Homo sapiens: one gene and its partners. The protein of the gene in region 2 purifies or fractionates together with the protein of the main gene of each other region. This does not show direct contact. Each region holds a gene or a part of one and is shown on either strand. Other genes may lie near its edges.

Region 1 (8,521 bases), on a different chromosome or scaffold from region 2:
GGTTAATTTATAGCACTAAATGCTTTTATTAGAAAAGGAGATATGTCTCAATTCAATAATCTAAATTTCTACCTCGATAAACTATAAAAAGAATATATGAAACCCAATACAAGCAGAGAAAAGTAAATAATAAAGATAACAGCAGAATTCAATGAAATGAAAAACAGAAAAATAGACAAAACACTGACACCAAAAGCTGGTTCTTTAAGCAGATCCAAATTTTTTTTTTTTTTTTTTTTTTTTTTGAGACAGAGTCTCACTTTGTTGCGCAGGCTGGAGTGCAGTGGCACCATCTTGGCTTACTGCAACCTCCACCTCCCAGGTTTAAGTAATTCTCATGCCTCAGCCGGGCACCACCACGCCTGGCTAATTTTTGTATTTTTTAGTAGAGATGGGGTTTCACCATGTTGGCCAGGCTGGTCTCAAACTTCTGACCTCAGGTGATCCTGCCCTCCTTGGCCCTCCAAAATGCTGGGATTATAGGCGTGAGCCACCATGCCTGGGCTGAGCAAATCAAAAAGTTGATAAATTTCTAGCCACTAATCAGGAAGAAAGAGAGAATGTGCAAATTACCATTATCAGGAATAAAAAAAGGGATATCATTACATACTTTGTAGACATTTAAAGTAAAGCAAGGGCTTACTACCTTACTGGATACCCTCCTGAATCATTTTAAAAGTTGTAGGATACATGAGTTTGAATAAAATTGTTTGATGAAATGTGAAGAAAAGTGAAAAAAATTCTATATTTGATTGTTCTGAAAACATCTGCAATATTTACTATTTCCAGGCTATCTGCTTTAATATTAAACTACCATCTTTATCCTTAATTATCCATAATTTAACCAGTATGAGAATATACACAATGTGCTTTTCAAAAACCTCTTTCTATGTGTACCTCTACTTTTTGAATGTTTTGCCAGCATGTTGATTATAGTTATAAATTATTTGTTAATAGTTTGGAATGGAAGAGTATGATAATTATATTGCTTTCTGTTGCAGGCATCATTAAGCAAGCTAATGGAAACACTTGGTCAAGCAGAACCATATTTTGTAAAATGCATTCGCTCTAATGCTGAAAAGGTAAAAATGTCCTATAAATGAGAGCACATATCTCAGCTTACTTCAAACTGAGCTTTAAATACTTTTAAGCAGAATAAGTGGAGGGGAAGCACTAACTATAATATTTATAAGGAAAATAGTATGTTATAAACACTTTAAATGGATTTTTCCACACTTCCCTGCCTGTAAGGTGTTTATTTGGATTTGATTTAGCATCACCCAGAATTTGAGAAGCAAATACCTCTTGAAGTCCTGTCAGAAAAGAATTTTCTTTTTTGTTTTTGTTTTTGTTTTGAGGCAGAGTCTCACTGTGTCACCTAGGCTGGAGTGCAGTGGCATGATCTCAGCTCACTGTAATCTCCGCCTCCTGGTTTCAAGCAGTTCTCCTGCCTCAGCCTCCTGAGTAGCTGGGACTACAGGTGTGCACCACCACGCCCGGCTAATTTTTGTATTTTTAGTAGAGACAAGGATTTGCCATGTTGGCCAGGCTGGTCTTGAACTCCTGACCTCAGGTGATCAGCCCACCTTGGCCTCCCAAAGTGCTAGGATTATAGGCGTGAGCCACTACACCCAGTTGTAGGTTATCTTGTTACAGATTTTGTAGTGATTGGACTATGTGGCCTCTGTGGGTGACTACATTCTTTTTGAGCCTTTAAGGTCCTCTCTCTTCACAACCAGAGAAGCCTGGAAGCTTGGTTTCTCTCTTTTCCCTAGGGTTGGGCAGTCAGAACTTTTCTGAAGCTACCAGCTGAGAGGTGAGCTTGCCTTAATATACTTAGTTACTGTATATGTTAACCAGACAACCTCCAGTCAATCTCTAGATACTCAACAGTTAGTCATGCTTATAAACAGATAATTAATTTGGAGATCTACTGTTCTGGGTTAATCTTTTTTCCATTTGCTTTAGCTGCCCTTAAGGTTCAGTGATGTCTTGGTACTTAGACAGCTTCGATACACCGGGATGCTGGAAACAGTTCGAATTCGCCAATCAGGATACAGCTCCAAATATTCTTTCCAGGTTCTGTTTTTATAGTGATATTTACATATTTAGACACATCAAGTAAATGATTCCCACATATCTTGCTTATTATTTCTTTGGGGCTTACTTATTTTCCTTAATTCTTCCTTTCCATTTCACGTTTTGTATACGGAATTGAAAAGGGATAGACAGTATTTACTTTGATTGAATGGCAGCAATCTCATTAAGCTTATTGTAATAGAATCCAGTACTTGGCTATTCTCATTTGCTCGGAATGTTTGCTAATACTAAATTTACTCCTGATATAACAATTCTTTGCACTGACCTCTCCAGTAACTGAAATAGTTCAATGAGAATTATCTAGTGAAAAGATTCTATTTGGTTTTCCCTAAAGTTTTCTCAGCAGGATTTTCTTTCATAGTAAGCTGCCAGCAAGGCTCACAGCTACTCGTATCAGCAATTGCTGCTATGGGTATGGAAACTATATTGAAGCTGTTCAGCAACTGAGCAAGTCTTTGCTGTTACTGGGACGGAAAGCCTCATTCTCAGTGATACCCTGTCCCCATCCTGCCACGTTTGCTTTTTTTTTCCTGATAGAAATTTTAGGGTCTTGTTAAATACCCTTTTCTTTGGTCTTTTATAAAGCTTTCTCAAAAGGGATAATTAGCCTCTGCCTTTTTTTTCTCTCATTCCCTTTTGATGTCATGATATGTAGAACCCAATATCTTTCTCCACCTCCTATGTTTTCCGAATTAACCTTTTATCATATCTTAAATTAACATGCACGTCTTGGTTTCACCCTGTTTAAAAGAAAGAGAAAAGATTAATAGAATGATAATTAGTTTAAGGTCTTGTTTACATACACTGTTTTCTGATTTTACAATATTTTTAAATTATTTTTCAGGATTTTGTGAGCCACTTCCATGTACTTCTTCCCCGAAATATTATTCCATCCAAATTTAACATTCAGGATTTCTTCAGGAAAATAAATCTTAATCCAGATAATTATCAAGTTGGAAAAACCATGGTAAATATAATCTGTATAGCTCTGGTCAAAATTGAGTGCATTTATTTAAAAAATAATAATTTTTGCCTATGAGATTGTTTATTAAAAAGATAGTGAATCAGATATCAGAAGACAATTGGTTAGGCCCAGGTTTTTATTTAATTATGTAGTCAATATTAATCACAGAGCTCTGGCCAGTGCTCTAGTTCTGACTATAATTTTAACTGCCTAAAAATCATCTCTCCATAGATACTCTACTGTAATCTCCAAGCCAGCTTGCCCAAGGTGACCATATCCAGATTCATCTGTTCTTAAATTTATCAAATACTTTCTTTCTCTGTCACCCTTTTTCCAGTTTCTCAGTCTAGAAACCATAATTGTCTTTGGCATACCGTTCACTTTAATCCTTTCACAAAGTTTTAGGGATTTTTTTTCCTTTTACAAAGAGATTCTTACATCGCTTTCTGTTTCTCCATTACTACTGCTTCCATTTTATTTTTATTCCTTATCTCTTCTCATCTACATTGCTTATACAGTGAACAGCTTACTTATCTGATTCTAGTATATTTGTCATTCCATTTAATTTATTCTACTCATAATATTAAAATTATTATCTTAATATACTTAGTTCTTTATGTCTGCCTCCTGCTTGATAATAACCTCCTGATAACCTCCTCATTAAATCCAAACATCTTTCTCTTTTTTGAGAACCTTCATATTGTGGCTTCACATTACTTAATATCTTTTTTATGGAGATTAATTGTCCCGTTGTCTCCTGTGCATGCCTTTATTATTATTTTCAACTCTCTGTGTTACTCAGGTGGGATCTTTTGTCTCTGGCCCTTATTAGTTTACCATCTTCCTCTTCGGGTATATAATATCTACCTGCTCTCAAATGAGAGGTATAATTCCTGTTTCTAAAGGGATATGTCTCCTTCACCTTTGCAGCCTCACAAACCCTAAACATTAGTGGAATGAAGGAGTAAATAAAATAAACTTATTAATAACTTTGGACAGTGAGAAGCTTTTAATGCACGCTGGATTTCAAAAAGACTGTTATCATTGGTTTATTCATTATATGATTCAAGCTTCAAGATCTATGGTTTTCAACTTTTTTCCCCATCCCAACACGCTTGAAAAATATGACTTATTACCAGTAATACATTTACTCATAGCAGTGGTTTCCCCAATGGACTAATGTATCATAATCTCTGGCACTGGAATTTTGATATTCTTGCTCACCTTGTCATTTTTCCCTCCCTTCCTCCCTTCCTTACCTTCCTTTTTTTGTCTTTTTTTTTTTTGGAGACCAGGTCTCTCTATTTTGCCGTAGAACTGGAACTCCTGGGCTTCAGCAAACTTCCTGTTTCAGCCTTCTCAGTAGTTAGGAGTATAGGCATGTAGCACCACACCCAGCTCACCTTCCGTATTCTACTATCTCCATTTCAATTTGAGAATGACTACTTTGGATAAATCTGTAGGAATATTTATCAGTACTTCATTTACATGCCTGCCACTGTGTTTGTTCTTCTCTAAAAGCTTATCACAGAAAGGATGATTCATGAAATAAATTTCTCATTTCTTCTTAAGCTGCATTCCTCATCTTTCTTCCTTTTGGTAGGTCTTTCTAAAGGAGCAGGAACGACAGCACTTACAAGATCTGCTTCACCAAGAGGTGCTCCGCAGAATCATATTGTTGCAGCGATGGTTCAGGGTCTTGCTGTGTAGGCAGCATTTCCTCCATCTGAGACAAGCATCTGTTATTATCCAGGTGAGAAGCAAAGGATTCTTTGCATGAGATTGACTAGTTTATTTGGCCTTTGTTTAGTAACCAGAACCTTTTTACTGTAAAACATTTTCAGTAATAATGTGAACTTCAGAAATGAGAATATGTCGTACCCAATTTTGAAGTGCTCATAACACCCAACAGATTATCTGGCATATAATAGACTATTAATAAATATTGATTCCATTGAATTTAAATTAAATTGAATTTGTAGTTATAATGTCTTGTGAGATCTGTGTAGGGGCTAAGGAGTTACCTAATATTTGTTGACATAGTTGTTTTTATTTAATAGTTTTTGGAGTGATGTTTGAGAGTTGTATATATACCGTTGGTTTTAGACACTCATTTTGGATGATAGGTACCTTATTTTACATTTTATTTGTTTTATTAACTCCCTCATTGATTTATATCATTTCCATAAGATCTTTTCCATTTGTGCAAGAAAATCTTTAGTATCTTCATCTTTGGAATGTGTGTCAGGATTACCTTAAACCCATTAGTGTTATTTAGGAAAATTGTAACAAAAGAATATAATATGTTAAAGTTACTAATAATTTGAAGGACATGAAATCATCCAAAAATTTTAAATTAGGTTCTGTAATTAACTTCTTCAAGGTTATATTATTTAAAATAGCTGTTTTAGCCAAACATATCTGGAAGAGAAAACTTTTTTCTATTTATCTTTTTCAGGTACACTTTCTGCTTTTGTAGAAAACTAGTTTTTTTATTTTTATTTTTTTGAGACAGAGTCTCACTCTGTCACCCAGGCTGGAGTGCAGTGGCGTGAATTCTGCTCACTGCAAGCTCCAGCTCCCAGGTTCACGCCATTCTCCTGCCTCAGCCTCCTGAGTAGCTGGGACTATAGGCACCCACCACCACGCCCAGCTAATTTTTTTTGTATTTTTAGTAGAGACGGGGTTTCACCATGTTAGCCAGGTTGGTCTCTATCTCCTGACCTCATGATCTGCCTGCCTTAGCCTCCAAAAGTGCTGGGATTACAGGCATGAGCCACCGCACCTGGCCAGAAAACTTATTTTTAATCACCAAGAATTTAGCTGCATAGCCACTTAACCTGTAATTATGACATAAGAAATTTATTCTCTTTTTTTCCTGTGAAAATGCAGTGTAAGATATGACAACCAGTTTCTGTTATTTTGTCTTCCCCATAGAGATTCTGGAGGAATTACCTAAATCAGAAGCAAGTCAGAGATGCAGCTGTGCAGAAGGATGCTTTTGTTATGGCTAGTGCAGCTGCTCTTCTCCAAGCTTCCTGGCGTGCTCACTTAGAGAGGCAGCGGTACTTGGAGTTACGGGCTGCAGCCATCGTTATCCAGCAGAAATGGAGAGATTACTATAGGCGCAGGCACATGGCTGCTATTTGCATACAAGCAAGATGGAAAGCCTACAGGGAAAGTAAAAGGTACCAAGAACAAAGGAAAAAAATTATCCTTTTGCAATCAACATGTAGAGGATTCAGAGCAAGACAAAGGTAATCTCTATTACTATAATAATTGCTTTTTTTCTTCTTCCCAAGTACTTTGTTTATACCTCTGCATTAACACTTGTCTAATTTGTATTAGAATTGGTTGTATACAATTTGTCTTTTCCACTATACTGTGATACCGATTTTAACCCACATTGTATTGTCTATAATGGAAGTTAAATAAGGTTTTATTGAATTAAATTGGATTGAAAATCTACATGGTCTGTGATCATAACTGCTAAGAATTAACTTCTACATTAGGCTGAATCTTATAAAATTGGCAATATTCAACTGTTGTTACTTTCAGAAACTTTAATTTCACACTTAAATTAAAATTTCACTTTAATTTCACACTTAAAATTTCACTTTAATTTGAGGTTTACTTTAAAATAAAGGCATTATTAAAATGAGAGCTTTACTTCTGAATTAGTTTACATTTTGACTGAAATGCCTAGGTAGAAGTAATACACTTAATGAAATATCATCTGACTCATGGAAATAGGAAAATTATGAAATGTGCATTCAAGTTAGTTTAAGAAGAACTTAGGTATTATAAAAAGATTTTACAACTCTGCATTTTTTCTTAAATTCTCAGGAAATATGTTATTTTCAGTGGTAACTAAGATATTTCTATAACCCATTTTGTCTGTTTTTATATAGATTTAAAGCTTTAAAAGAACAAAGGCTAAGAGAAACAAAGCCAGAAGTTGGATTGGTGAATATTAAGGGATATGGATCTCTGGAAATTCAGGGTTCAGACCCTTCAGGATGGGAGGATTGTTCTTTTGACAACAGAATAAAAGCCATAGAGGAATGTAAATCTGTAATAGAGAGTAATCGAATTAGCCGTGAAAGTTCAGTGGACTGCTTGAAGGAGTCACCAAACAAGCAGCAGGAGAGAGCCCAAAGCCAGAGTGGTGTGGACTTGCAGGAAGATGTGCTTGTAAGAGAGAGACCCAGATCCTTGGAGGATCTCCATCAGAAAAAAGTAGGCCGGGCTAAGAGAGAAAGTAGGAGAATGAGAGAACTAGAGCAAGCTATATTTAGCTTAGAATTGCTGAAAGTTCGTTCTCTTGGTGGTATTTCTCCTTCAGAGGATCGCAGATGGTCTACAGAATTGGTGCCTGAAGGCCTTCAGTCTCCACGGGGTACACCTGATAGTGAGAGCTCTCAAGGAAGCTTGGAACTTCTGAGCTATGAGGAAAGCCAAAAGAGCAAACTAGAGTCTGTCATTTCAGATGAAGGAGACTTGCAGTTTCCATCACCTAAGATATCCAGCAGTCCAAAATTTGATTCACGGGACAATGCCCTCAGTGCCTCAAATGAGACTAGCAGTGCAGAGCATTTGAAGGATGGAACTATGAAGGAAATGGTGGTCTGCAGTTCTGAGTCTATTACCTGTAAACCACAGCTGAAAGACTCCTTCATTTCAAATAGTCTACCTACTTTTTTTTATATCCCCCAACAAGACCCACTGAAAACAAATTCCCAACTAGACACAAGTATCCAAAGAAACAAACTATTGGAAAATGAAGACACAGCGGGGGAAGCTCTTACTTTGGATATCAACAGGGAAACTAGAAGGTATCACTGCTCAGGAAAAGATCAGATTGTTCCTTCTTTGAATACAGAGTCTTCTAATCCTGTGCTTAAGAAGTTAGAAAAGCTAAACACTGAGAAGGAAGAAAGGCAAAAACAGTTGCAGCAACAGAATGAAAAAGAGATGATGGAACAGATTCGCCAGCAAACAGATATTTTAGAGAAGGAGCGCAAAGCCTTCAAGACAATTGAAAAGCCAAGAATTGGAGAGTGTTTGGTGGCACCATCTTCCTATCAGTCAAAGCAAAGAGTAGAGAGGCCATCCTCTCTCCTCAGCTTAAATACCTCAAATAAGGGAGAACTTAATGTACTGGGGTCCCTATCATTAAAAGATGCAGCTCTTGCCCAAAAAGACAGTTCCTCTGCTCACTTACCCCCAAAGGACCGACCTGTCACCGTGTTCTTTGAAAGAAAAGGAAGTCCATGCCAATCTAGTACTGTCAAGGAATTATCCAAGACAGACAGAATGGGCACCCAGCTGAATGTAGCCTGTAAACTCTCAAATAATCGCATTTCAAAAAGAGAACACTTTAGGCCAACTCAGTCTTACAGCCACAATTCTGATGACCTTTCCAGAGAGGGAAATGCTAGGCCCATTTTCTTCACT
Region 2 (8,535 bases):
TAGGCATATCAGAATCAGCATTAACACAGCAATTGCTACTACATGCAGCCAGGTTGTTAATGTTATTTTGGCTTAAATCCATATTCTGGGCAGGATTTAGTACCATGTAGGCAGTTGGGACCTATCAGCTACCAGGGTAATGTCAGTAGGCCCCATTCCATCACACAGGACAAACTACGAACCAAAGAAATATCTATTCCACCTCCTTCATACTTGTCTCTTTTGCTTCTGACTTCAAAAGCAGGGCTAGAAAGACCAGGAAGAAGAGACTGATTATGTTTATATCTGTGGAGCAAAGATTATGCAAACTGCCAGCACTTCATTGTTTTTGTTTTCGGTGTGGTTATCACAGAACAAAAACAAAAAGATAACTTCTACATCTGAAGCCCCATTATTTGAAAACAGACCTGAATATTTCCTCCTCTTTCAATAAAGCAGAAAGCACCCTCCATTTTACTTATCTATGAGGTATTTATTTGTTGATAGGGGACTAGTTACTATTTCTATATGAGAGCTTGACAGAGTCTATCTAAAGAAGCTATTTCCTGAGTTACTCTAGAAACCTCACACTGTTTTGATATTTGCCAAAAATCCAAGATAGCGTGTTTTTTTTTTTTAATTTCTCCACCTTCCATACCCCTCAGGGCTAAAAAGAGAAAAACATGATCACAAGCATAGTAAATGGTCCGTTAGCACTCTGACCTCTCTGAGTTTCTATTTGTCTTTTGTTCCTTTTTCTTTTAAATACCCTTACTGTTTATTTTTTCCTGTTTACAGAAGTAATGCATGGTCATTGTCACAATTCAAACAACACAAAGATGTATGAAATAAAAATTAATAACCTCCCCTCCTCCAAACTCTCAGTCTTCTCTCAAGGAAGCCAATGTTAACAGTCTGGTATATATTCTTTTTTACTTATTCCTAGGCTTACACAAATATTTATAACATATGTGGCTTTTCTTGTTTTGTCTTTTGGTTTTCAAGCAAAAATGGGATATTACATGTACTATCATGCATTTTGCCTTTTAGTCTTAAAAATATGCCATGGACACTTTCCAAGCCTATATATAGATCCACAGAATACTCTTTTAGTGGCTGTGAAGTATTCCATGAGACAAATGTCCCATAATTCATTCAACCATCACCCTGAGTCTCCCAACTTATTAACATTTAGCATAGATCTTCGTGCATATACTACTTCATGACCTTTCACTTCAGTGACAGATTTTTAGAAGTGAGGTTTCTAGGTCGAGTGAAACATTTCCAAGTGTCTCAAATTTTATATTTAAACAAAATTAATTTTAGGCCTTGGGAATTTCTGTTCTCTTCATTATGCAAAATTTTGTTATCTACCTTTCACAATGCTTTACATATTTTATTCTTAAAAGCACACACATTATGTCAAAAAATGCCCCTGTCATTTATGCTTGTGTAGTTATAAATAAATAAATGCTTAAGTTATGGCTGTGATGTCCAGTGTTAAATCACTGTGCAAATGCTTATGCCTTGGTTTATGAAAGTAGTAATTCATTGTGGAAACCCCACCCCCACAGCCATGTGGCAGCACTAGAGTTGCAGCCCTCACATCCTGTGACTCCCTCCCACAGAGTGACTATATAGAGATCAGGACCTCCATTTTTTCTAATTGTCAACAGTTAACCTTAAAAAGTGTGTGGTGGGGGAGACAAATAGCAACAAACAACAAATTGATGGCCATTTTGGGTTTCTAATATGGACAGATTATTTGTAACACAATGAATAATCCTCCTGGTCTACACCAGCGACTGTGTTCCAAAAGAAATAAAACTTGTAACCAATATATTGCTATTATTATTACAGGAACCTTTAAAAAACATATCTTCAAACATTTTTCAATAGAATTACTGGATGAATCACACTTTACATTTTTTTCTCTACTTCAGATTCAAGTTCTAATTGCAAACTTAAAAAAAAAAGCCTTAAAGAAATACATTAACCAACGAAGCTCCTTATAATTTGGTTTCAGACTCCTCCATATATTTTAAAGACCTGAGCACCAACAGAGATTGTTAAGATACAGCAAGCTTGATACAGAAGTATGCGACATGCAATTAATCTCCATTCATACCCCGCTCTACTTGTCAGCAAACAAAGGTTCTGCTTTAGAAGGAGATCTGAAGACTTCAATTAAAAACAGTCAGCTAACAAGAAAATAATCTAAGCTAAAGGAAGGTGGCAGGTGCAGAAATGAGTTGTTTACCAAAGTGTCAGTTTTGAACAATGAAGAACTGCACATCAAAAATGCTGAAGGAATGGATTTCATTGCAAGCCTCTGAAAATAAAAAGGAATTTTCTACCAAGCCTAGACACAAAACTGAAGTATAGTTTAATAAGCTTATAAAATAGGTTTCCTCTCATCAAATGACAGATACCAATAAAAAGAATCAGTTTATATATTTCAATGCAAGGGCAGAGTTAAACTTTTTGCCACAGTCCCTTCTTTCCTAGAAACCAAAGACAATTACAGCCTTCCTTCACAAGCCTAATATTAAACCAACAACAGAGGGAAAGGCTGGATTGTTTCTTCTTAGACACCCAGATAATTCTCTTTTACCCTGCAAATAGTTTTCTACCCCCAAAATTTAGATTTATTCTGATCGTAAGTAAAACGGATTTTGGAAACCTCACCTCAAAAGAAATATCTAGCTGACAGCTTTTACATAGAAGCAATCCAGAATGGAAATAGTGCTACAGACAGAGACCAAAAGGACTTGCCAAATATTTGATTAGGAGGCATTTATACCGAGATAACAAGGTAATGGAGATATAAAACCAATTAAATTGAGAGAAACTGAAAAAAAATACTGCTTGCCAAAAATATGACCTGCCCAAAGCAGGCCGTCTGTTAAATATGTGTCAACTATGTCAACTTAGATGCCAAAAGGCTTAATTCTGAATAGTTTCCTCCTGGGAGCCTTATGCGACTGCAGATTCCAGGCCTCTGTCCTCCCTGGAAGGTTAGTTACAGGAAAGCAAGTAAAAGTGACTTCCACCACGAAACCCAGCAGATGAAACTGCCCGTTAGCAACGTCTCTTTGTGACATCTCTTTGGAGTGTTGGCAGTGTGTGTTGAGTGTTGACGGGGATGGCCGGAACTCTTTAAACCACCGCTTAGACACTGTAGTTGGAAGGTGAACACACCACAATGGGAGTTGGAAGGTGAACACACCACAATGGGGGCACTTCTAGAAAAGGAGGAAATCCCATACTGAGAATGAGCCTGCCTTGGGGTGGGTGAGACCCCTAGACGTCTGCAGGGTGATAAAGGGAGGGCTGGGGTTTTCGCACTGACAAAAACTCACGTCAACCACCTGGCCTTGGCCCATGGGGATCCCATGAGCCCCTCGCAGCCCCCTGGAGAGCCTCGGGGACCTCTAAGCAGGAAGGTTTGGGGTCTTCTGTGAGAGGTGAGGAAGTCGTGGCTGGGGAAGGAGGGGGACGGGAAACCCTACAGATGTAGGGCAGTCCTTTGGAGAAAGGGACAGGTCGGAGACCAGGCAAGGTGGCATGGGGGACCAAGAACCTGGCCTGAGGACTTTAGAAGCCGGGGAGGTGAAGTGGAGGCGTGGAGGTGCCTCAAGGCAAAAGAAGATGTGGGACTCCAGGGAGTGAAAGGGGCCCTGAGGTGAGAGGATGGAAAGCTGGCTCTAGGGAGTTGAGGGCTCTAGAAGCCTTAAGGTTCTAGAAGGAGGTGAGTGACGAAGCCGTAAAGAAAGCCTGGCCGTGGGAGGCCTGGTGTCCCCTTTCGGCCTTCGGCTCAGCACTGGAGGGGGCCTGCGCCAGGGCGTTACCTTCCAGGAGCCAACGGATCTCCTCAGGGAGGGCGGCGGCCTGCATTTGGCTGGGCGGGAGAGAGGCGGGACGGGGCGCGGGCCCTGGTCGGGAGGCGGACGGGCTGGAAGGCGACCCGGCTGCACCGCGAGGCACCTGTACCTCAGCCGCGGTCGCCGCCCGCCCAGCCCGGCCGCGGGGCGGGGCCGTGGGTCCCCGGGCGCGTCAGGAAGTGGCGCGGGCGGCAGGCGGGGACCGGAACGGGGCGCGGGGCGTGGGTGCACGTGGCGCTCACGCCGGAGCCCCACGGTAGAAGGATTGGGGGTGCCGGAAGCACCGCACCGTGCGAGGCCAAAGGTGCGCCCCTCCAGCACCCACCAAAACAAAAGACTTCACAAGGCTCAAAGGACCCACGGCTTTGGACACTCCATCCTAAGCACCGAACAGTTGACCTCACGGTGGCAGATTTGAAAGACCACGGGGTGCCTGAAGTAGGGTGCAGGGAGGCAGAATCCAAGGAAGAGATCCCCGTCAAGCATAGCACCCCTCAATTGCCGGTCCAGTTCACATCTCCATCCCCAGAAAAGAGGGCAAAACTTCGCTCTTTGGGAAGCCACAATGTTGAAAGGAAATGATTAATTCCCAATAAGCAATATAAGGACACCAACATTTGGGAGAATCGCGGCAGCGTGGCAGCAAGGGACACAGGAAACCAAACTGTGCTGTTCTCCCTCAGGATGGAAAGGCCCTGAGGAAAGGAAGGGGTAACACAGGGAGAAAGCTGAGGGAGAGGAGAACAGAGCCCTTTCCCTCCAGGAGCTGCGGAAGGGAGGAAAGTGAAGGACAAAATCACACGGTCTCATTCAAGGGACAGTTGGTGTCAGTGTCCTGGTTGTGACATGGTACTGTAATAGTGCCAGATGTTACCCTTGGGGGAAACTGGGTAAAGGTAGACAGAGTTCCTCTATTATTTCTGAAACTCTCTGTGAATCTATAATTCTCAAAATAAAGAGGTTTTTTAAGTACAATAGGTCAACTGCCATGAAAAAAGTATAAAGTGCTATGGTTGATAAAAGAAGGGAGCTGAATACCAGAAAAGGAGGGAAGAGGCCAGGCATTGTGGCTCACACCTGTAATCACAGCACTTTGGGAGGCTGAAGCAGGAGGATCACTTGAGCCCAGGAATCTGAGGTTACAGCCAACTATGATCACCCCAGTGTACCCCAGCCTGGGCAACAGAGCAAGACCCTGTCTCTTAAAAAAGAAAGAAAATAAAAAGAAGTGCCAGTGTGCATGTGAGTGTTTAAAGGTGCATGTGGTGTTTGAGATGGGCTCTGAAAAACACACCAGACTTTGAAGGGGCAGAGGACTTTCCAGGTGGAAGGACCAGAGTAAAGAAAGATGGAAGAGCCCTCACCAGCTTGAGGAATAGTTAGTAGCCCTCTTTTACTGGATGTTGTAGAAAGACTATGGTTGTCAAGATAAACTGCAGCTCTACTGTGAAGGGACTTGAAAGTCAGAATAGGAATGTTGAACTTAATTGAGAGGGCACTGGGGAGCCATTGACAATTTTTGAGATTGGGAATGACCTAACCAGAGCTCCGGGGTGGTATGTGGCCTCACACATCTCCACCTCTGCCTTTTTCCTTCTTTGTAAAAAATGGCATTTCTATTCTCAGACTCAACCTACAGAATATGTAGAAAAGATTAGGAGTGGTGGGAAAAGACACAGGGGGAAGTGGGTAAAATGGTTTTTACAACAGCCATAAGGGGAATAATGATGGACTCAATCTAGCAGACGGGGCAAGAGCAGTAAGAAGAAACCATCGAGAAGGATGAGTGTGATAAAAGTGCCTGCCTCCTTGTACTGTTTCCCATCCAGAGATACAGCCTCAAAGATGAGGGTGTGATCCTTTAAGGAGTACAGTGCATCCTGCCATCTGAAAAGCAGTGGTGCATTGGTTTCAGTGTCACATGACCCACCTACAAGCTGCAGTAAATTGGGGTGAGGGGACAGAGGCTGGCATGAGCCTCTCTGGGGTATCTGGCTCCTGCTCATCCTCCTTCCTGCCCTGAGAAAGTATAGTAATGGGTGGCTGGGCACAGTGGCTCACGCCTATAATCCCAGCACTTTGGGAGGCCAAGGCAGGCGGATCACGAGGTCAGGAGTTTGAGGTCAGCCTGACCAATATAGTGAAACCCCGTCTCTACTAATAATACAAAAATTAGCTGGGCATGGTGGTGCACGCCTGTAATCCCAGCTACTCGGGTGGCTGAGGCAGGAGAATCACATGAACCCGGGGGGCGGAGGTTGCAGTGAGCCGAGATCAGGCCATTGCACTCTAGCCTGGGTGACAGGGCAAGACTCCATCTCAAAAAAAAGAAAGAAAGAAAGAAAGAAAGTATAGCAATGGGCAGACTACCCCTTTCAGGCTTGGGATCAAGTACCAGGTACCCCCATGGCATTTTTACCAACTTCACCACTTCACCTATAAAATTGTAGCTGCTCTAGAATCATTTTGAAGTACTTATGAGGCATACTAAAAAGCAAGGAAAGATACATGGGAACTGTCTGTGCTATCATCTCAATTTTTTTTTGGTAAATCTAAACTGTTACACAAAAAATACAGCAAGGGCAGCAAAGTCTCCCCATATGTCAACCTAAACTTTGCCTTGCTTTCCTTCTTGGCAACAGAAGAAAATTTGATAACCTCCCCCTCTTCTTCAAGGATATGGTGTCACATACTAATATAAGCTACCAGCTAATGAATTGTTTGATAAAGAGCAGTAAACCCAGGTAATTGCACTTCTTTGCAGGCTTCACTGCCTGTCATAGCTTACTTACACCAAAAACTCACAGTGTACGTATTCTATATGCATCCTTCCTTACAAGAATCTCTGGGTTTTAGAGAGACAGGGGTAGAGGGAGGTGCACAGTCGGGTAGTATGTAGTGAGTGACTGGCAGATTCCAATACGGTATTGTCATGTTGCATCAAGGTTCCTCATTGCAGACAGAAATCTGCCTCCACACATGAACGCAGCCCTTCCTTAATCATCTGAGGACCCTGTTTCAGCAGTCAGCCCCACTCCTAATGACATTCTGTTAAATGGACAAATTCCTTTGAAGCCTTGTCCTTTTTTGAAATCCAATTTCGCAGGAAGCCAAATCTGATTGGGGGTAGCCATGGAAACCACATGGAGGAGTCTTAGAGGAGGTGAAGAGAGGCAAGGCAAAACGTGATAGTCACGAGTCCTTTACTGTTCTGTCAGAAATATCAAAGCAATCTGGAGAGGTTGGCAGTAGCTGAGTCCCTGCCTGGGTCCTGTTCTGTGTGGCTGGGTACTATGTGGCTGTCATGGAAGAAAGCAGCCAGCTGTCTCTGCACACAGGCAGGAGGACAGAACAGAATACACAAATCTCAGGTCTGTCTGCCTCCCTTTTCTTCCCGTCCCCCCCAGACCCAATTCCAGCAAGATCTTAGCATCCTCTTCTTAGCTGCCTGCCCCTTAAAGACAAACAACAAAAGAATGACAAGGTTAAAATACAAGGCCCTCACAGATAAGAGGTCCTTTGGAGCAGAGGCCATGAAATTAATCTGGAATTCCTTGTAATTAGATAAGATAAGGGGATCTAAAGAGATGTAGAACAGCCAGGAATGGAGTCCAGCAGCACAACATGCAGAAAACACACCGCCTTGTCCACCGGGACCCTTCACGCACTGTCAGCAGACAGAAGACACAGAAAATAGGGCCCATATTGGCCTCTGAGCTTCTTGGGAATGCTGTCTACATGTTCTCATGCCAGGTGGGCACTCGCTAAATAGGCATCTATGGGATGTCCAGAGGGACCAATCAGGAAGAAACAAAAGCATCTGGCACCCAGAATGGCATGCAGTGGGAACACAACTGCAAGCAAAGCAGGAGCTGGCTGGCACCGCTCTGCCCTGGCTGAAATGGGTCTGGAGAGGAAACTGCAGAGGGCAGGCTCTGAGGCTTTATTCTGAGCTGGTTATTGATCCCTGAATGCTGGGTCATGACATGTGGCGGAGCTGACGTCTGCCCTATGGATGTGCAGCCACTGCCTCTCAGCCTCTCGGTCCCAACCCCATCAACCGGGTTTATTGACTCTTTTATTGACAATGCTGGGGCCTAATGAGGCCAAGAGCTGCACACTTCATTAAGAGATGTGGAAGGAGAGATGATGCATCCTGTCGGTGCCAAGAACCAGGCTCACTGTATGTTTTGCAAGGCTCCAGAAACCAAGCATCATGCCACCTTGAAGGCAGAGGAGATGGACATAAGATGCTAACTTGGGCACGTTACTTCAGTGGCCTAAAAATGAAGTTTCCACGGCTTGCCAGAAGCCTTGTTCTTACCAATTAGCTAACTCTTCAACTTAGGAGGGTCCTGTTATACACACACTCACACAAATACACTTCCAATGGTCTCCCCTTCCAGCTCACACTCCTAGATTCTCTGCCTTAATACATACAACAAAATAAGCAGCTTCTCATATCACATCAGGAAACAATTCCATAAGCAGGTTCTCAGTGAGGTACAGGCTTGGAACAGTATGAGGGACTATATAAAAACTCAAAAGAATCTTCAAAGGGAGCAAATTCAAGATAAGGAACAGACCCAGCACTATACCCAGGGTCCCCCAGCTTACCAGGAGCTGTGCATTAGAATCAGGTACAAAGCTCTTGTAGAACTGAAAAATACCT
Region 3 (8,521 bases), on a different chromosome or scaffold from region 2:
TGCCCCAAAAGAAAGTCTCATTAAGTCTGGGTTTGTGCCTTTTTTATGTTGGCTATTAACAGCCACGTCTTTTCCTTTTTCTAAATAGCAAAACACCGAATTGCTCATAAACCGCATTCCAAACCAAAAACTTCAGATATTTTTGAAGCAGATATTGCAAATGATGTGAAATCCAAGGATTTGCTAGCTGATAAAGAACTGTGGGCTCGACTTGAAGAACTAGAGAGACAGGAAGAATTGCTGGGTGAACTTGATAGGTACTTGATGACAAATTATCTTTCCAAGATAATTTGTTTCTATACACATTTCCTCATTAATCTTTTTCTTCATTAATAAAATAATATGTGTTCATTGAAGAAAATGCAGGGAAGCATAATATATTATCAATAATCCTTTCACCTCAAGATGAACATTAATTCTCTGGAATATTTTCTTATAGGATTGTGTGTTTGTGCATATTCCCATGCATGTACATGTACTTAAATACTTAAGATCAACATCTTCATTTTTTATTATGGCCTATTTTATATAATTAATTATACCAGATAGTTGACTTTTAATAATCATGGATTTAATATATATAATGTTAAATTTTAAATGAAGTATTTTTATGCCACACCCAGGATAGTGCTCTATCTTTGAATGTGTTGTGAAAAACAAAAATACACTTTGAATTTAAATTTGATACAGTAAAATGTTTATTCTTGCTTTCCTTTTATAAACTTTGGAGCAGGTAATTTGTAATCTGGTCAGATAGCTATATGTATGAGAAACTTTACGAAATTGCTGTTTGAAATACACATTAGCACACACTTAGAATTGTTAAAATGCTAAATGAAATCTGCTACTCGAGAAGTTCTATATTATTTTGCTTAAATGATGTACCATATGCAATAATTAGTTTCTGTGAAAAATAGGGCAGGAAGCATAAAAGTTTCTTTTTCCTAGTGTTTCACCTATAAATTCTTAGGTCTTTTTGATTAACTAATACTATTCATTTTTTAAAACCAGTTTTGGATCTTGTGATTTTTCTTGGTCATGATTCTCTTTCTATTTTTTGTATGATGTTATTTCAGTTCTGTTGCATTTTCAATTTTGTTATTTTTGTAAGGTCCTCACATCTTTTATAGAATCAAGTATGATAAATGTTCACTCATGCATATAGATATATTCGTGTGCATATGTATAAATCCTTTATTTTTAAAAATTACAATAATACATGCTCATTGTAAAATATTCTGAGTATAGGAGTAGAAAATAAGTGTGTATTATGTGGTTTCAATTTCTGGTCTTTAGAGATAAATGTTCTCTGAATTTCTTACAACTTTATTATTATTGATACTATATTTATATTGCATATGGCCAATATCTTTCTTGCAAAGATAAAAAAATTATCTTCTATATTCTACTTATGTCTGAATAACCTCAATATATAGAAGCAGCATAGGAACTGTTTTTTGTTAATTTATTTCAAAACATTTTTTTGTTTTTGAACTTAGAATTCTAGTTTTAAAAATACTTTATTCAAGATCTTAGTATTTACCCATGGAAACTAACTGGAAATTTAAATAATGTAAAATTCTAGTATGTTTGTTTGATCTTGTTAATTTTCTTCCTTGCTAGTAAGCCTGATACTGTGATTGCAAATGGAGAAGATACGACATCTTCTGAAGAGGAAAAGGAAGATCGTAACACAAATGTGAATGCGATGCATCAAGTAACAGACTCTCATACTCCTTGTCATAAGGATGTTGCAAGTTCAGAACCATTCAGTGGTCAAGTGAATAGTCAGTTGAACTGTTCAGTGAATGGTTCCAGTTCTTACCACAGTGATGATGATGATGATGATGATGATGACGACGACGACGACAACATTGACGACGATGATGGTGATAACGACCATGAGGCTTTAGGGGTTGGAGATAATTCTATACCAACAATATATTTTTCACATACTGTTGAGCCTAAGAGGGTTTGTATACTTTTAACTTTACTAATTTTGCATATAATTTGAACATTAAGCATTATGATATTTTTTAGAAGAGCAATATTAACAATCATTATCATTGTGGATAGTGCCAGACAGGAAAATCATCTTTTGCCTCTTGTTCTGACCAATTTAAGAAGAAAAAGGGAAAAAAAATTTAGTTAGCTGGTATTGGTCCATTGTTCTCTGAAACAATGCATTGTTTGGGGTCTGGAAGGGGATCAGATTTGAGTGGCAACTACTGTAACTTCACCTGTCCTTCATTCAGAGAGTTTTCTTAAGAATCCTGGAGTTAATTATATTGTGGACATTTTGGTGTGCTTAGGATGTTGAAAGTGACTGCATTAGTTAAATTTTTAATTATGCCAGGTTGTTTTCTATGGACATAAAATGAATACTTCATAGGCACAAAGGGAAAATGTAGGAGGAAGTAAAAATTAGTTTCTTTTCTGACAAAGTAAATATAAACATCTGTGGATAATCATGACTTAGAATTTTGGCATTTTAGAGCTGGGGGTGACTGGAGATTTTCTAATACAGAGTTTTAAAGCTTTTCTCTAGTATGAAAAGCCTTTTGTTCCCTCCATACTTACTGTAGAATCCCAGTATTTAAAATAGATCAAAGCAGCTTGGCTCTGATTGAAGGAAGGATAGGCTGCCTTAAGTCCATCTTTGCCCTCTCTCTGCTCCATGTACTGCTCTAAGGGGACACTGGGAATTCGTCTAATTCGTCTTTCTCAGGGAAATTTAAGGCCTAGAAGACATAGATCTGGTTGGTAACAAAACAGGAACTCTTTCGCCTCTGAGTGCCCTTTCTACACAATATCCCGATTGCCTGTATCAGTTAAGGGTCTGTGGTATCATTCTTAAGTGTGTGTGATTATTATTTAGTGAAATATGTTTAAAACATATTTGATATTTCTTAGCTTCCTAAAGTTATTCCTGCTCCTATATGAAGTGAAATAATTGTTTGTGTTTTTATATTCTAATATGTCAGACTGAAGGGGTCTTCCCCTGATTCTTCGGGAAAAGTTGACTGAGATGATTAGCCAGAAAAAAAGGTCGCTTTTTAATCTTTTGCCAGGCTTTTACTTTTTTCCTGTTTTCATTTAGATAAAACAGAAAGAACAAATATTATTTGCAGGAACGTTACAGGTAATAGTGGTCATTATTGTGGAAAGTATGCTCTAAGTGCTGACTAGGGATAGAAAAATAACATGTTAACCCCATGTGAACCCTGAACAGGCTTGGTTTTTATTTTTTTACTCCTTCAATTTCTAAAAATTAGAGATGTTTTAAAAATTCTAAATAGGCATTATTTAATAGTACTTTTATGACTTAAAGGTTGTATTCTTACTGAATTTTTGTTTATACTCTTTCTTTTGAAATACATAATTCAAGCCAAACACTTATATCAAAGGAATGGGGTGATGGGAAGTTTATAAGAAATCTAGCATTTAGTTCAAATGTATTTTGCTTTCTCTACAATAATAAAGACACTGAAGACTAGGATTTGTTAATAAAGAAGATTTTCTTTAGATGTCATAGATCTATGAGATAAGGACTTTTTAAAAAATTCCATCTGATAATGCACATCATTTCAGCATCAGAAAATTTCAGCTGCCTCTCTTACTATTATTTTTTTAGTTATAGAGTTTATTTGTTTTGGTTTCACTTTGATTTAATTTGTCAAAAGATTCTTAATTTCTTGCTCTGAAATTTTAGGTCCGAATAAATACTGGAAAGAATACCACTTTAAAATTCAGTGAAAAGAAAGAAGAAGCCAAACGTAAACGAAAGAACAGCACTGGCAGTGGCCACTCTGCCCAGGAGCTGCCGACCATCAGGACGCCTGCAGACATTTACAGGTGGGAGGCGCTCACAGCTGCAGGGCAGTCTGCTGGGCTTGCCTCTCTTTCTGCCACTGAACCTTTACTGGAGAAAGTTGACTGTAACACAGAAGACCCTCACTGAAAAGTGAAGTGTTCTGAGGAGTTAACTTAGGATCTGATAGGCTGACCGGCTGTAGCTTCCCAGTCCAGAGCAGTGGGAATGGAGGATTTTTTTTTTTTTTCACTTTCTCCTCTTCACCAGTGCTTTTGAAACATTTCCAAATGGTCTAGTCAGAAAATCTTGTATCTTCAGAAAGCATTTTTGTTTCCAGTGGGCTAGGTCCCTACGTTTCTACCACAGCCGTAACATGCTTGGCATGCAGTTTACCTTTTCAGAGTAGAAATTATACTGTTGCAGGTTTTTTTTTTTTTTCCTTTTTTTTGGAATTGTTTGTTGAGAAAACTATCACTTGAAAATACCTACTGTTTTTATGACCCTTATTTATAAATCAGTGAAAATTGCTAAATGTATACGTGGGTCTAAAACTTTATGTAGAATTTTGGCAAACCATGCTATTGCCACCTAGGACATGCTTAAAAATAACATGCTGTGTTTTTGTTCTCACTCATAGGTGGGAATTGAACAATGAGAACACTTGGACACAGGGTGGGGAACACCACACACCGGGGTCTGTCATGGGGTGGGGGGAGGGGGGAAGGATAGCATTAGGAGATACACCTAATGTAAATGATGAGTTAATGGGTGCAGCACACCAACATGGCACATGTATACATATGTAACAAACCTGCACGTTGTGCACATGTACCCTAGAACTTAAAGTATAATAAAATAAATAAATAACATGCTGTGTTTTATTATTAGGCCAGAGAAATAGCTTTCAAAATAGTATGAAGATACCATTTGAGGCTATAAAATTATTGTGATTGTGACTATTTTAGATATAAGATTGTAATAAAAATTTTCAGATTAATTTCTAGAATAGATTCAAGGAAATTTTCAAAAAGTTGTTCTCAGTTTTATGAGTTACGTATAGTGAATGCATATGTGTTTTGAATATCACAGAGCCTTTGTTGATGTTGTGAATGGAGAATATGTCCCTCGCAAATCCATCCTGAAGTCTCGAAGTAGAGAGAATAGTGTGTGTAGCGACACTAGTGAAAGCAGTGCTGCTGAATTTGATGATAGGCGGGGAGTTTTGAGGAGTATCAGCTGCGAAGAAGCCACTTGCAGTGACACCAGTGAGAGCATTTTGGAAGAGGAACCACAAGAAAATCAAAAGAAACTTTTGCCCTTATCAGTAACACCTGAGGTGTGTGTGTGTATCTTTTAATTCTTTATTTCATATAGTATCTTTGACCAGTTTTAGCTATTTAATCTGAAAAGTCATAAGATTAAATTAATTCTAGGTTTTATACTTTCTTGGTACTAATTAATAAAAAATTAATAGTCACAAACAGTACAAATATTGTGATAATCAAATAGTTTATTTTTTGATAAACACATTACTTGTCTTAACGTTCTATTTCAGCAAAATGGGAAATTTAAAATGTCTTACTTGGCATTATGTATTACATTTGTAGCTAGGAAATTATTTCGCAGTTTATTTTAAATAAATTACCAGTAGGTCATTTTCTGATAGTGTAAGGAGCAGATTACATTATTCTCTTTTAAATACCTTGGCTAAGTTAAAGAAAAATAATGCATGCATAGCAGATAATTACCTAAAGTCTAATATTTTACCTTGTACCAGTGAAACTTAACTCTTGGGGGATTATGGAATTGTTTTATAATCTGATGAAAGCTGTAGACCCTGTCCATAGAAAAAATAGTGCACACTCAATACACTTTCACCCACCACACTTCTTACAGTTTTTGGTGGTGGTGCAGGGGAGGTTAGGAAATCCCCAAATAAGGATGTCTGTGAAATATAAGGCTATTGATTTCTTCATTCTTGTGTTTTGGTGCGTATTTGAAGTTTTCAATTTAAAAAGTATTTAGGAAGATTGGGGAACCCATGCCTGGATCAAACCAGTGTACACATTTGTATATACAATAAGATACATGCATATATATAACCTTATCTAAAAATTCCATTGCTTTTACTAAATGGTATTATACTCAGTGTATTAAATGGTAATTGGGGATGGAGATTGGTAGCATTTAGGGACAGTACATATGACTAGAATGTTTTCTTCCCCTCTTCTTAGTATAATGATCTTAGGTGACCTGGAAAGTATCTTACCTTATTTGATAGTCTTCCATACTGTTAGAAAACAGGTAATGGATGTTATCAGGTAATTGCTGATAAATGTTTGAAAATTAGTTTTTTGTAAGGACTTAGTGTATCATGGTACAGCTAGAGTGTGGAACCTATTTTTTATTTCACCCTTAGTAGCTTTGCATTTTGTATGGAAATGTTTAATAGTAGTTGCTATACATTTTTTAACATCAAAGAAATAGTTCATGATTATGGTAAGTACTTTGGAAGATATCCTTTTCAGTATCTTTTTAAATGCTAAAATACCTCTTTTTCAAAGGCATTTTAAATAGAAGAAGGAGAAGAAGGCTCTATGCTCATCGTGATAAAGTGGAGTTTTTAGGAAAGTAAGCTTTAAGCTGCTTTTACCAGTTGAACTCCAAAAATAATGTAGGAGAGAGATGGCTTTCTTTGTTTTTGTTTCAGTGGTGGGGCAAGGTAGAAGAAGGTGGCTTTTTAAATTATTTAGGTGTTACGTTGTTTTAACTAATTTTGAGCACTTGGTAGACAGAGGAGAACAAAATGTACATTAAAGTTCACCTGTCAAATTTTCATTTGTAGAGGGAAGGATGGAGGTTCTAAATACCAGCAATCTTAAAAAAAAAAAAAAAATTAACTCCTTGTGTCTTACCTATTTTTGTATAAAACGACATGTACAGATATTTCCAGCAATTTATGCACATTCTTTAATTCTGTTCCAGTTGAACATATAGTTGACCAGATTAAATGCAGCAAACATCCAGGTGAAATTGAGTCATTTCTTTTTTTGTGGAACTTCTGATTTCTGTCATTGAGTTAATTATATTAAAATTTTGAAACCTGTACTTATTCCTACTAGTATCAGCACTTTTATTTTTCAACTTCCACTGATCTTTTAAAATTGAGGCAATATGCAGTAAAATATTTAAATAATTGCATAAACACCACCAAAGAGATATCAGTTAGAAATGTCAGTACTGGTGAAACTAAGCTATTGGCTAGCAGGCAGCAAGGCCATCATAGGATAGCTCATTCATCAACTGATGTACAAAAGTCAGAGTTTGACACCCTAATAGCATTTTTATTTTAATACATTATTTTTCACAGCATGGGCTGGACATGAATGGAATGTATGAAAGTTTGAAGACCTTTTATTTATCCATTTCTTTTTTTTCCCAGATAAAATTTACATTTTACATTTTGTTTTCTTGCATGTATACTGTAAAAATTACTTCTGTTTGGTGGTGAAATTAAAACTTAATGGTGTTGGTTTCTCTGAACAATTAGTATTTTGGTGTAGTAGTGTTGTCTAGCCAAAAATCTCGTGAATTTACTTTTAATGAAAAGAATTGCCAAATGAGTGAATGGGAAGATTTTGTGGGTGTCTTATTTGCATTTTATTACCATAACCTGACTTTTGTTTTCTAGGCTTTTTCTGGAACTGTTATAGAAAAAGAATTTGTATCACCTTCCTTAACACCACCCCCAGCCATTGCTCATCCCGCACTACCCACTATTCCAGAACGAAAGGAAGTTCTGTTGGAAGCATCTGAAGAAACTGGAAAGAGGGTTTCAAAGTTTAAAGCTGCCAGATTGCAACAGAAAGACTAGGCCCTGTCTAGGAAATGGGAATTTACATCCTAAAACCTAGTTGTTCATTTGTTTAGAGTATCTATAGCAAAATAGGTTACATGTAGTTTGAAATAAGGTATCCTGAGTTACTTTGGCAACAAGTTCTTTTACCCTTACCCGTGGTATTTGAAAAAAATCAAGGTAACTGTCTGAATACTTTAATATCAGCTTGTTTTGTGAATTCTCTGAATACTGTCAACACTCTTATCTAAGTTTGCCTTTATGATGCAGTGGCAGCATTTTGAATTACTTTTCAAAGAATACTGTTCATATGCATTGTTTTTGTGTTTCAAACTAAATACAGGCAGTTTTGTGCCAGCTGTGATATTGTGCATACCATATGGACCATTTTAAAGAAAATTTTAAAATTTCAAATAGATTCAACAATTACATTACTTGCTTTCACATTTTAAAGGCACTTTAAAAAAATCTACTTCTCTTGTAGGTTTTGCGGCTAGTTGGCTATTCAAGAAACCTCGCCCCTCTGAATGTCATACTGTAATCTTTAAGGAAGAAAGCTACATGAATTAATTGTACTCTATGGGAAAATTTCTTTGGAAAGATATTTTGTAAAACTTTTTTTTCCAAGTAAAAACTTTATGAAACTTGGTCTCAAAAATGTTGTGAACTTTATGATTCAAAATTGAGTACAGATATGTCCTTGATTCATATGTATGCTACATGTATCACACAACAGATCTGGAATTCTTTCAGTTCCTCAGATACTTCTCCCTTAGTTTTTGCAGTTTCACTGGGATTATGTTTTGGGAAACAAGGAAAGGTCTAGATGCTTAAACATTTTAAATAAAAAT

What was found.
Region 1: the proteins of SKAP1 (region 2) and MYO9A purify together in Homo sapiens (affinity purification with mass spectrometry; 3 studies listed by BioGRID and IntAct, with this or other methods). This does not show direct contact.
Region 3: the proteins of SKAP1 (region 2) and URI1 purify together in Homo sapiens (affinity purification with mass spectrometry; 4 studies listed by BioGRID and IntAct, with this or other methods). This does not show direct contact.

What each region holds. Positions count from the first base shown.
Region 1 is NC_000015.10:71,897,487-71,906,007, reverse strand, and holds part of MYO9A (unconventional myosin-IXa), read left to right. Parts: intron 1-1,001; coding exon 1,002-1,082; intron 1,083-1,968; coding exon 1,969-2,079; intron 2,080-2,944; coding exon 2,945-3,067; intron 3,068-4,667; coding exon 4,668-4,817; intron 4,818-6,001; coding exon 6,002-6,321; intron 6,322-6,975; coding exon 6,976-8,521. UniProt on the Homo sapiens protein: Myosins are actin-based motor molecules with ATPase activity. Unconventional myosins serve in intracellular movements. Regulates Rho by stimulating it's GTPase activity in neurons.
Region 2 is NC_000017.11:48,426,245-48,434,779, forward strand, and holds the start of SKAP1 (src kinase-associated phosphoprotein 1), read right to left. Parts: upstream 3,971-8,535; 5' UTR 3,877-3,970; coding exon 3,831-3,876; intron 3,689-3,830; exon of another isoform or gene 3,366-3,688; coding exon of another isoform or gene 3,342-3,365; intron 1-3,341. UniProt on the Homo sapiens protein: Positively regulates T-cell receptor signaling by enhancing the MAP kinase pathway. Required for optimal conjugation between T-cells and antigen-presenting cells by promoting the clustering of integrin ITGAL on the surface of T-cells.
Region 3 is NC_000019.10:30,007,382-30,015,902, forward strand, and holds part of URI1 (unconventional prefoldin RPB5 interactor 1), read left to right. Parts: intron 1-88; coding exon 89-257; intron 258-1,623; coding exon 1,624-1,972; intron 1,973-3,712; coding exon 3,713-3,855; intron 3,856-4,903; coding exon 4,904-5,150; intron 5,151-7,505; coding exon 7,506-7,688; 3' UTR 7,689-8,154; coding exon of another isoform or gene 8,155-8,211; 3' UTR 8,212-8,521. UniProt on the Homo sapiens protein: Involved in gene transcription regulation. Acts as a transcriptional repressor in concert with the corepressor UXT to regulate androgen receptor (AR) transcription.